3 linked regions of the Homo sapiens genome follow. The protein of the gene in region 2 purifies or fractionates together with the protein of the main gene of each other region. This does not show direct contact. Each region holds a gene or a part of one and is shown on either strand. Other genes may lie near its edges. The genes, in order: ADNP, PHF7 and PPP1R12A.

The links.
Region 1: the proteins of PHF7 (region 2) and ADNP purify together in Homo sapiens (affinity purification with mass spectrometry, with the first as the bait; one large-scale study listed by BioGRID). This does not show direct contact.
Region 3: the proteins of PHF7 (region 2) and PPP1R12A purify together in Homo sapiens (affinity purification with mass spectrometry; 3 studies listed by BioGRID and IntAct, with this or other methods). This does not show direct contact.

The regions. Positions count from the first base shown.
Region 1 is NC_000020.11:50,924,801-50,928,456, reverse strand, and holds part of ADNP (activity-dependent neuroprotector homeobox protein), read left to right. Parts: intron 1-3,656.
Region 2 is NC_000003.12:52,417,043-52,420,698, forward strand, and holds part of PHF7 (E3 ubiquitin-protein ligase PHF7), read left to right. Parts: intron 1-2,790; coding exon 2,791-2,892; intron 2,893-3,268; coding exon 3,269-3,393; intron 3,394-3,656.
Region 3 is NC_000012.12:79,806,040-79,809,695, forward strand, and holds part of PPP1R12A (protein phosphatase 1 regulatory subunit 12A), read right to left. Parts: intron 2,539-3,656; coding exon 2,444-2,538; intron 1,292-2,443; coding exon 1,187-1,291; intron 295-1,186; coding exon 127-294; intron 1-126. UniProt on the Homo sapiens protein: Key regulator of protein phosphatase 1C (PPP1C). Mediates binding to myosin. As part of the PPP1C complex, involved in dephosphorylation of PLK1. Capable of inhibiting HIF1AN-dependent suppression of HIF1A activity.

The sequences.
Region 1 (3,656 bases), on a different chromosome or scaffold from region 2:
AGAGAAATTTTTACAGATGCTAATATTGTAATCATTTGCATTCTACACCCCTTTGTATAAAGTATAAGTATTCAGTTACTATTACTTTGATAACCCAATCTCTAGAGTTGCTAAGCTTCTAAAAGCCTTAAATGTCTGATGAAAACATGGTTTTCCATGAACTTGTTCTTGCTACCAAAGATTGACAGTGGTTGATGTTTGTGGGTACCTTTAAGACTTTGTATGTTACATAAATACACCAAGATAAGTTTATGGAGAACTGAATGGGTGTATTCTTTGATACCTAGTTAACCAGTTGGTGCTTAACAGGAGAATTTTTCATTGGAGAATTGCTACCAGGTAACATTTTGGTGAGTGAAAAGGAGGCCCTTTGGTACAGGTATTTGACTAGAGACATTGCTTCTACAATTTCTTAGTCATTGTGAAAAATCACATATTTAAATGGGATTATTTAAATTTTTAAATACTGTATAGTATTTGTAGGCAGGTATAGTTTTTATCTTTATTTGGTGTTTTATATGCAGTTATTTAAGTTCTGAAAATGACCATATAATTTGAAGACAACTTATTTGACGGAATGTTTGAAATGAAGTTTGTTGAGGGGCTTTTGTTTGATTTAGCGAATGGGATACAGTGTTGAATGATGTCCTAAGTGGTAACAGCCATTTTCCCTTAAAGGAAAACTTGCTGTGAGCTCTTAGAAAGCATGTATTCTACTGTTTCAAAGGTTTCTTGGTTTTAACACTCAAAAAATAAGGTGAGGCCAGGTGAGGTGGCTTACGCCTGTAATCCCAAAACTTTGGGAGGCTGAGGCAGGAGAATCACTTGAGGCCAGGAGTTCAAGACCAGCTTGGGCAACATAATGAGACCCTGTCTCTACCAAAAAAAAAAAAAAAGTGAAACAATTGGGCTTGAAGACTGGAATTTATAGTAGGTAAACTATATACTTCATTAAAGTATAGTAAAAGGTTCAATTAACTAGAGTGTGGGGAATGGGTATTCTGTTTAACTGAACTTTAAGTAGAAATTCCTTTTTTATCTTGGCCTTTGTTGAAAAATTTCCTGAGACTAGCTTATTAGGAGCTATATATTGAAACTAACCTCTTTGATTTTGGTTTTTATAGTTCCTGTATAGAAAATATAGGAGATTGGGCTGAAAATCTCTTAATGACCCTTGGCCCTTCCAACCTTGGAAGTCATTGATTTTATACATGCCCACTGTGAATTTGCTTTGCTTTGCTTAAGTTTATCTTTTTCTCCTTATACCAGAGTGCAGGAAGAGTTTTAATACTATTTATATTAAAATAAGAACTTCACAACCTTGAACAGATGGTTTTGGTACCACTTGCAAGTAACCAACCAGTAGGCTTTTATCAGGCAAAAATGGCTTATTATTTATATTTGATTATTAAAAGTATAGGTATATAAGGCATACTATGTGAAGTTGTTGCTTTCCTTGTAACTACTTACACGTTTTGAAAGTATTAAAAAGTTAGTATTTTGAAAACTAAAATACTCAAGTTTATTGATTAAATAAGATGATGCTGGCTACAAATTTTATTTTGAAAATTGCAACTTAATAAGGAAGATAAAGCTGTTTTGTAAAGGAGAAAGTAGAGATTGATACTTCATAGGGTAAAAAAAAGAAAAACTTCAGCATTTATGTTTCTTCTTTTGAGAATCATATATAAGTAACAAAACTGCATAAATTGCAATAGACCTAGGTCACTTGATTTCACAATTGGGTGTGTGTATGTATGTACACATACATATAAAATATATGTAGGTTTTCTAGAGCTGGAAATGATTGTCATATTATTAAATACAGATGAAAAGTTCAAGTATCACGTGTAGTTTGGGGAAAGTACATTTAGTTTTGAGATGTAGTTTGGGGACAATACATCTAAGTGTAGTAAAAAAATACCAGAATTAAACTTTATGTATGTATTTTTTCCAAGTAACCTATTTAAATCTTAGTGAAATAAAGATTTTTAAAGTAATATGAAAGAAAAAAATAGGAAGTTTTTATTTTACAACATTAGAAGCATTATTGTGGTTTACACCAAAGTACCCATGACTGTTGTGTAAATAAGCTACTTGTTCAACCTGGAGTTCCAAAGGAGTTTTTAAAAGAGCATCATAAAGTCAGTTATGTCTTACATAAGGTAAAATAACTTTCAGTGGGAGTTTAACCTTCATTCTCTTGACTGAGAGGCATGTACATTAAGAGAAACATTGCTCCCCTATGTGTAAATAATTTAATTATAGTTGGATTCACAGAGCTTGACTTGTTATTAGCATCGTATAAACTTAAAGTTTTTCCTCCCCTAGTTTTTGTGTGTTGTTTGTTTGTTTGTTTGAGACAGTCTTGCTCTGTCTCCCAGGCTGGGGTGCGGTGGCCCAATGTCGGCTCACTGCAACCTCTGCTTCCCGGGTTCGAGTGATTTTCCTGCCTCAGCCTCTGAGTGGTTGGGATTACAGGTGCCTGCCACAACGCTTGGTTAATTTTTGTATTTTTAGTAGAGATGGGATTTCGCCATGTTGGCCAAGCTGGTCTTGAACTGCTGACCTCAGGTGATCCGCCTGCCTTGGCCTCCCCAGGTGCTGGGATTATAGGCGTGAGCCACCGCTCCCAGCCCCTCTCCTAGTTTTGTAAGAGCTTGTGATAGTAACTGGAGTAAATGCCGTATTTTGCTGATGTACCTCACTGCCAGTTAACACCTTCTATGTTGTTAGTTTGGAAACTCGGTGTTTGAAACTAGTATAAACCAAAGCCCCATGCTAATTAACTGAATTGATACTTTGAATGTAAAAGCTGTTTCTTGTTTTTACTTTGGCACTTTCCACCTTGATTGTTGAGATACTTTATTTGATAAACCGTCCATGCTTTGCCCATTGTGGGTGGCCATTGTGATTTCATGGTTTTTTGTTGTTTGTCTGATCCTGTTTATTAGAAAGTGAGGAGAGGATGATTATGTTCCTTCATCCTCTCAGTGTCTTAGTACTCCCTACACCTGCGTTATGTTATGACCTACCTTTGCGATCTGCCAGTTTTGGGGTCAGCTTAAGTGAGAATTCATATTCTGCTTCACTGGAATGAGAAGGCTCTCCTCACATATTATCATGCTTCTCAAGTTGGTATATATGAGCCAACTTGATTATGTAGTGTGTGTGTGTGTGTGTGTGTGTGTGTATAGGAAGTCACAGATAAAAATTGAGCCAACTGTGGAAAGTGACAGTTTTGATTGCAGGGCACACGTTTTTTTATTCTAATCAATGAAAAATGCAAAATTCATATTACTGTTTTTAGTCCTGGGTCCTGTCATCTCTGTGTATTAATTCAGTCCTCTGCCTTAAGGAGTTCCTTGAGATTTCACTCACAAGCTTTGGTATTATTGATCCCTACCTTGGTTCCAAGACAGCAGCTAGAGAAAGCCTGGAACCTCTCAAGAATTTCAGCAGTGTTCTGGAAATAAAGATTTAGAAAATAAGAGGAAAGCATAGACAACGTTGGATGGAGTTTACAAAGGGAAGCCTGCTCTGAATATATGCCACAGTTTTAGATTTAAGTTAAAGATTTAATTTAAAAGCATACACGTAATCTAAAAGAGTCATGCATTATTTGACCAGCTGTTAGAATTAAAAATGAATCTGCA
Region 2 (3,656 bases):
CAGTGCTTTTTGTGTGTTGCAAGAAATCTTTACCTACCCATAGAATTGCCTTGGTGCCTTTGTCAAAATCAATTGACCATATATCTGTGGATCTGGATAATCTATTTATGTCATTGATCTATGTATCTATTCTTACACAAGTCCCCACTGTCTTGATTATTGTGGCTTTATAGTATATTGAAATTCAGTATTGTTAAGTTCTACAATCTTTTCCAAGATTGTTTTGACTATCAGGTCCTTTCTTTATAAAGTTTATATTAAGCTTGTCAATTTTTCTTTAAAAAAAAAGTCTACTGGGATTGTGATTGGGATTGCATTGAATTTATAGGTCAATTTGGGAAGAATTGACAAAAAATATTGAACCTTCCAATCCATGGACATGGTATATTTTTCCACTTATTTGGGTCTTTTAAAATATATCTCAGCAATGTTTTGTTGTTTTGGTGACAAAGTCTTGTACATCTTTTGTTAAATGTATTCCTAAATATTCTGTGGTTATGCTATTGTAAATAGTATTTTTATTTCATTTTTAAGTTTATTGCTGGTATATAGAAATGCATTTTATTTTTGTATATTGATTTGTATCCTGTAATCTTGTTAAATTGAGTTTGATTAGTTGTTTTTTTATTTTGTTGTAAATGCCTTGTTACAGGATTCCCTATGCACATAACCATGTCATGTGTGAATAAAGACAGTTCTACTTCTTTCTCTCAATCTTTGCCTTTTATTTCTTCTTGCCTTGTTGTATTGGCTAGGACCTTTAACCTAACATTGAATAGAAGTGGTGTGAGTTGTTATCCTTGTCTTGTTCCCAACATCAGGGGACAGCATCTAGTTTTTCACTATTAAAGTATGTTAGCTCTAGGTTTTTTTCATAGATGTTTTTATCAGGTTGAAGATCCCTTTTATTCATATATAGTTTGCCCAGAGTATCATGAATGGGTGTTGAATTTTCTCACTTTTCCTGTATTTATTGAGATTATCTTGATTTTTCTCTTTAATTTTGTTAATGTAGTTTGTTACATCAACTAAATGCTCTAATGTTAAACTAGTCTTGCATTCTTGGTATAAACTCTACTTGGTCATGATGTATTGTCCTTTTTATATGGTGCTGGATTCAGTTTGCATCTGTTTTGATTTTTATATCTGTGCTCATGAGAAAGATTGGTCTGTGATTTTCCTTTCTTGTAAGTCCTATCAGGTGTCAGGGCTTAGTTATAATTTTGATGTATTTACAAGCATATACATTTTTTACATAAAAATTAAACATTATACAGAGTGCTTTGTATCTTGGCTTTTTTCCATCATATATATTTTGGAAATCTTTCTGTATAGAACATATAGATATAGTTTTTTCTTTTTAGTAGCTAATTTATTAAATCAATACATGCTTATTGCAGAAAACATGAATGATACTTAAAAATATGAAGAAAACAAATCACTCATCCCAAAGCCCTGAGATAATTAGTTTTAAAATATGTGTTTCAAAAGTTCAATTCCTTCCCCCATAATACAGAACAACAACAATCAAGAGATATTAAAACCCTGTTTTTCTTCCTGTATTACTCTGAGAAGAGTATTTTCTCTGTACTAAGAGGTGATGCAGCAGGAAGGGTAAGAATGGGGATTCCATGGGCCTGGGTGTGAATAGCCAGCTCTGCTCCTCCTTGTCCTATAACCCTGGGAGGCAGTGTCACTTGCCACACTGCACCTCAGCGGCCTCCTCTGTAAGATGAGCATCATAATAGCATCTGCCATTACAGGAATTTTTTTTTTTTTTTTTGAGACGGAGTCTTGCTCTGTCGCCCAGGCTAGAGTGCAGTGGCCTGATCTTGGCTCACTTCAACCTCCGCCTCCCGGGTTCAAGCGATTCTCCTGCCTCAGCCTCCCGAGTAGCTGGGATTACAGGCGCGCACCACCATGCCCTAGTTTTTGTATTTTTAGTAGAGACAGGGTTTCACCATGTTGGCCAGGCTGGTCTCGAACTCCTGACCTCAGATGGTCAGCCCTCCTCGGCTTCCCAAAGTGCTAGGATTACAGGTGTGAGCCACCGTGCCTGGCCAAGGATTGTAAGCATAAAATGAGTAAATACAAAGGAAATGTTTCCCCCAAAGTCCCAGCACACAATAGCAGCCCTCAGTAAGTGAGAGGCAGCCTAGAGCAAAAGTAAGAGTCCAGGTTCCAGAGTTCTGTGGCCTTGAGCAGGTCGCATCATCTCTCCTATAAAATGAGGACAATAATAGTACCTACCTCCTAGGGCTGTTGGGAGGACTCAATGAGTTAATATTTGAAACCACTTAGAGTATTCAACACATGGTTGGTGCCATGTAAGCCTTCATTAAATAAATTACCCTGTCAATGCATATATATTCCACCAAGCTCTGTTCTTTTTTTTTTTCTTTTTTGAGACAGAGTCTTGTTCTGTGGCCCAGGCTGGAGTGCAGTGGCACGATCTCGGCTCACTGCAAGCTCCACCCTCTCGGGTTCACGCCATTCTCCTGCCTCAGCCTCCTGAGTAGCTGGGACTACAGGTGCGTGCCACCACACCCGGCTAATTTTTTTGTATTTTTAGTAGAGATGGGGTTTCACCGTGTTAGCCAGGATGGTCTCCATCTCCTGACCTCGTGATCCGCCCGCCTCGGCCTCCCAAAGTGCCGGGATTACAGGCATGAGCCACCACACCCGGCCCAAGCTCTATTCTTTAGCTCTCTTACCCTGTCCTTCTCCTCACCTCACTGCACTGTTTCACTGATCATCATTGTTAACAGCCTGGTTCTACTGCCCCCGCAGATCTTATCTAGTAAGCTGCCTCAGAGGGGCCAGTCCAACAGAGGCTTCCATGGATTTCTGCCTGAAGACATCAAAAAGGAGGCAGCCCGGGCTTCTAGGAAGGTTAGAATCTCTTGAAATGAGGACCTTGGGGTAGGCCTCTTTTCATACCTCACCCATCATTCCTGTTTCTGTTCTCTTCCCTACTTCCTAGTTTAGATGTCAAAGGACTCTTGGATTTTCCAACTAGTCCTTAAGTCCCATATTCCTCTGGGGTATGGGTGTCCTAAGTGAGAAGAGGGAGAAACATCTTGAGAAAATAGGAAAGAACTCAGTGCTGCTTGAAGCTCAGCTTCCGGGTGCCCCAGAGCATTCAGGACCACTGAAGATAGGGAATGGCTATTATTTCACAAAACTTCCATTTAATAGAAAGATGTGCTACACTGTGTGTGTTTGCATTTCTTGGGGTCCTGAGCACTGTCTGGGAACTCATTTGCAGATCTGCTTTGTGTGCAAGAAAAAGGGAGCTGCTATCAACTGCCAGAAGGATCAGTGCCTCAGAAACTTCCATCTGCCTTGTGGCCAAGAAAGGGGTTGCCTTTCACAATTTTTTGGAGAGTACAAGTGAGTGAGGGAAGGGAAAAGTCTGGCTTCCTTTTTGCAACTTATTATTCAGCCACTAATGAAATCAGAGTCCAGTTCTCACAAGCAGGCCTGTTTTGATTCACCAGTGAATCTGTCCCTCCATTCAGTAATAAGAAACAGTGTCTTGACTTGGAGATTTCACAGGGGGTTCTTCTTGCTTCCTGACCCCTCCTTAAATTACAAACAGCTGGGGTTCTTAGACAGCTGCTCAGCACTAAGTGGGGCTTTCAGGAACGAGAGGC
Region 3 (3,656 bases), on a different chromosome or scaffold from region 2:
TTTGTCTGCAAATAAATTTAACAAGATAAATGAAAAAATCCAGAGCCCCACAATCTTCTAAACAAAAACGCATGCACATACATAAGCACACAGTAGACCTGAGCACAAAATGTATCTGTGACTTACCTGCTTTGTGTGCCTGCTGAGGAAGAACCCGTTGTAATCTTTGTAGTAGTGCTTGTGCTGGAAAGCAGGCTTTTCTGAAGCCCAGCTGCAGAGGTAACTGTTGGTGTTGATGTGGTGCTTGGAACACTAGAACTAATCAAATCATCTTGTCTTCTACCAAAGGAGCAACTAAACAAAAGAGTCATATCTATATAGGATGTGTTTGTATGTGTATTCTATAGTTAATGTCTATACATTATATAAATTACAAGGCTAGAAAAAAAATTTAAAAACTGTGTTCCTAAATACACCACCAGCTCCAGCACCAAGAGTTGCATCTACAACTTGCTAGAGTTTAGAAGATTTCACTTAATTCGGTAGTGTATCATTTTAGTGCCTCCTCCCAACTTTCTCAACAAGACAAAGATGATCTGATATTTCATATTTTTGAAACTATTCCACACCATATGGTCATGCCAGGCTGAGCCTGAAAAACACACTTTGGTTTTGTATTACCCAGGGAAAACAAGACGTTGACATTTTTTTGAAGGAAATTATTTCAGCAATGGGTCAGATACCTCGGAAGTAACCAATGCCTACATGATACTTGTTCACATCTTATTCTTTTTGGTTGCTTTTAGTAAAGAAATTGTTTATAGGGCTTTTTTTTCCTCTTCAATATGATACTACCAACATTCCAACTGAAGGCATTTCCATAGCTCTGAGTTCTAGGGCAAGCCAAATCTTTCCAGATCAACAATGACAACTAGATCCATTAAGACACTGGCCTGTTTAAGTTGTTCTAGTCAAGGAGTTCCTTCTAAAGGAGTTCCTTTTAAATATGTAACAATCCAAAAAACATTTCATAATATTTGAAGCTTAATTATATAATAGGCATAACAAATTATCACCTATCTTTAAATATATATCCTGTGTTTAGAGTAAGTTTTAAACAACAAAAACTCGTATTTAATAAAAACACATATTTGTTTAAAATGATGTTAAACTGAGGGCTCCAAACAAATTGCCTCATATTTTTATAAATGAATACATAAAAACCGCTTAAGAATAGTATTATTACCTTTTATGATACGTTGATCCTTCATTAACTGAGCTATTTTTTTTAAGATCATCTTCCCATTTTCTCCTTGTATATGAACTACTTGTTCGCAAACTTGAAGAATCTCTGTTAAAAGAACACCCTTCAGATTCTGGTACATAATTTTAAAATAGGATTAAGAAAGCGGTACACTAGTAAATATTAGTATAAGCTGAAACTAGTAAAAACCTTTGGGAGGACACTTAGGAATACTAATCAAGAAGATAAAGTAATTTCAGTACTAAGATTATATACCCTAAGGTATAATTTTTCCCCTAAGTATGGGGGAAAATTCAGATATTTATAGAAATATGCTTTTTGATCACAAAATATAAAGTAGGGGAGATGCTTACTTTAACCGCAGAAGATCTACTTTATAGTATGTTATGTGCCGACAAAAAAAATGCTTATTAAAAATATATATTAACATAGAAGACTGCTTATGAGATCTTAGGGGAAAAAAATAAAAAAATTAGATATTATAACATGATTAAAAGTATATTAAAAAGTTATTGGCCGGGTGCAGTGGTTCACACCTGTAACCCAGCACTTTGAGAGGCCGAGACAGGTGGATCACAAGGTCAAGAGTTCAAGACCAGCCTGGCCAAGATGGTGAAACCCTGTCTCTACTAAAAATAAAAAAATTAGCTGAGCAGGGTGGCAGGTGCCTGTAATCCCAGCCACTTGAGAGGCTGAGGCAGAGAACTACTTGAACCTGAGAGGTGGAGGTTGCAGTGAGCCGAGATTGCGCCACTGCACTCCAGCGTGGGTGACAGAGCGAGACTCTGTCTCAAAAAAAATAAAAATAAAAATAAAAATAATTAAATTAAAAAAATAAAATTCTATAAGCTGAAAAACAGGAAGAAACTAAAATATTTAAACAATATTTAAACAAAAATATTTAAAACAAACTAAAATGATTAAGTAAGGGCTTTCCTTCTTCTTTCCCCTTTCCTAAATGTTCCAAATATTTAGAGAACTCATACTAGTTCATGACCTTATCTCCTCCCACTTTCCCCTTACTCTGTTCCAGCCACATCTTCTTTGCTATTATTTCATGAACATACCAAGCCTGCACCTCCTCAGGACTATGTACCTGGTATTTTCTCCTTCAGGAATATCCTCCATCTCTTCCCACAATACATATCCGCACATAATTACAATGCTCATGTATTAACTCTAATGCTAGATAATAAAGATTTTATAGTGAATGCATAAAGCAAATCAAAATAAACTCACCTGTTTTCTTTCTCTTCAATGTCAGATGTACTGGCTAGTCGTCTTGGTATTGTAGGTGCAACATATGCAAGCCTAGTTCCTTTACTATCTTTCTCCTACACAACAGGGAAAAAAATAAGTAAAAATTAATTTGGGTACTGACTATAGGCAATGCTAAAAGTATTAAGAAAAGGTTATTCAATAATTATAATTACATAGCTATCATAGTTTACAGTATTTCAACAATTCCTAGCTGAACTCTAAAATTAATGTCAATCAATAATCAGCCTGTTCAAATTAGTTTTCTTTCTCTTTTAGCCTGGAATCAGATAATATTTTACTAAGAAAGGAAAAAAATTTCTCCAGATTTTAATGACTTTTTCTAAAACTTCTCTAACAGATTAATACTGTGTCATAAGCTGAAATATCTTTATTTCTTCCAGAGAAATAAACTTTCAAATATTGTTCACTGAGAGGTCTCAAGCATTTATATTATATAAGCTATTTAGAACCTTGATAATCAATGCTCTCAAATACATCAAAATAGTCAAAACAAATATTATTTAAATTATATTTATCCAAATATGGCTAAGAGTGTGTAGTGACAATGACACTCTGATACATTCCTAGTAAGCTGGCATAAAATACCTGGAAACCAACTGCACAGTAAACTGATAAAAAAGCAAAAATATTAGAATTACTTGATGAGAAATTTCATCTGAATTTCTGATATAAGGAAACATTTCTAAGTATAGAAAGAAAACTGTATGGGCAAAAAAAATAGTTCAAGCACTGAATATGCTGTAGAAATAAATACTAGTATTGAATAAACTGTGGTACATCCTATATAATGCAGTATTAATACCACCTCTCAAAATAGTTATTAAATTTACTCATTAAGACAAAGTTGCTTGTAATATGGTAGATGAAAAATCTGGTATTTTTTTTCAGATACTGAATAAATGTAACTTATGAGTATACTAACATTCTAGAATAAATGTGTTCCTATGTTTTTTAAACTTCAGAAAGTTTCTTGAATCATAATAAACAAAATAAGCCTGCTCCTTAATACAGTTCTATTATAAATTCTCAAGTAAGGTAATAGATTCCTTTAACGGAGTATAGTCCCATAATTTATGTTTTAGGCAAATACATCTGATCTTTCCAGTATTTATAATTCTGTATAAATTACATTTGTCTTATGTAATTCATTAAGGTTAATTAACTTGATACC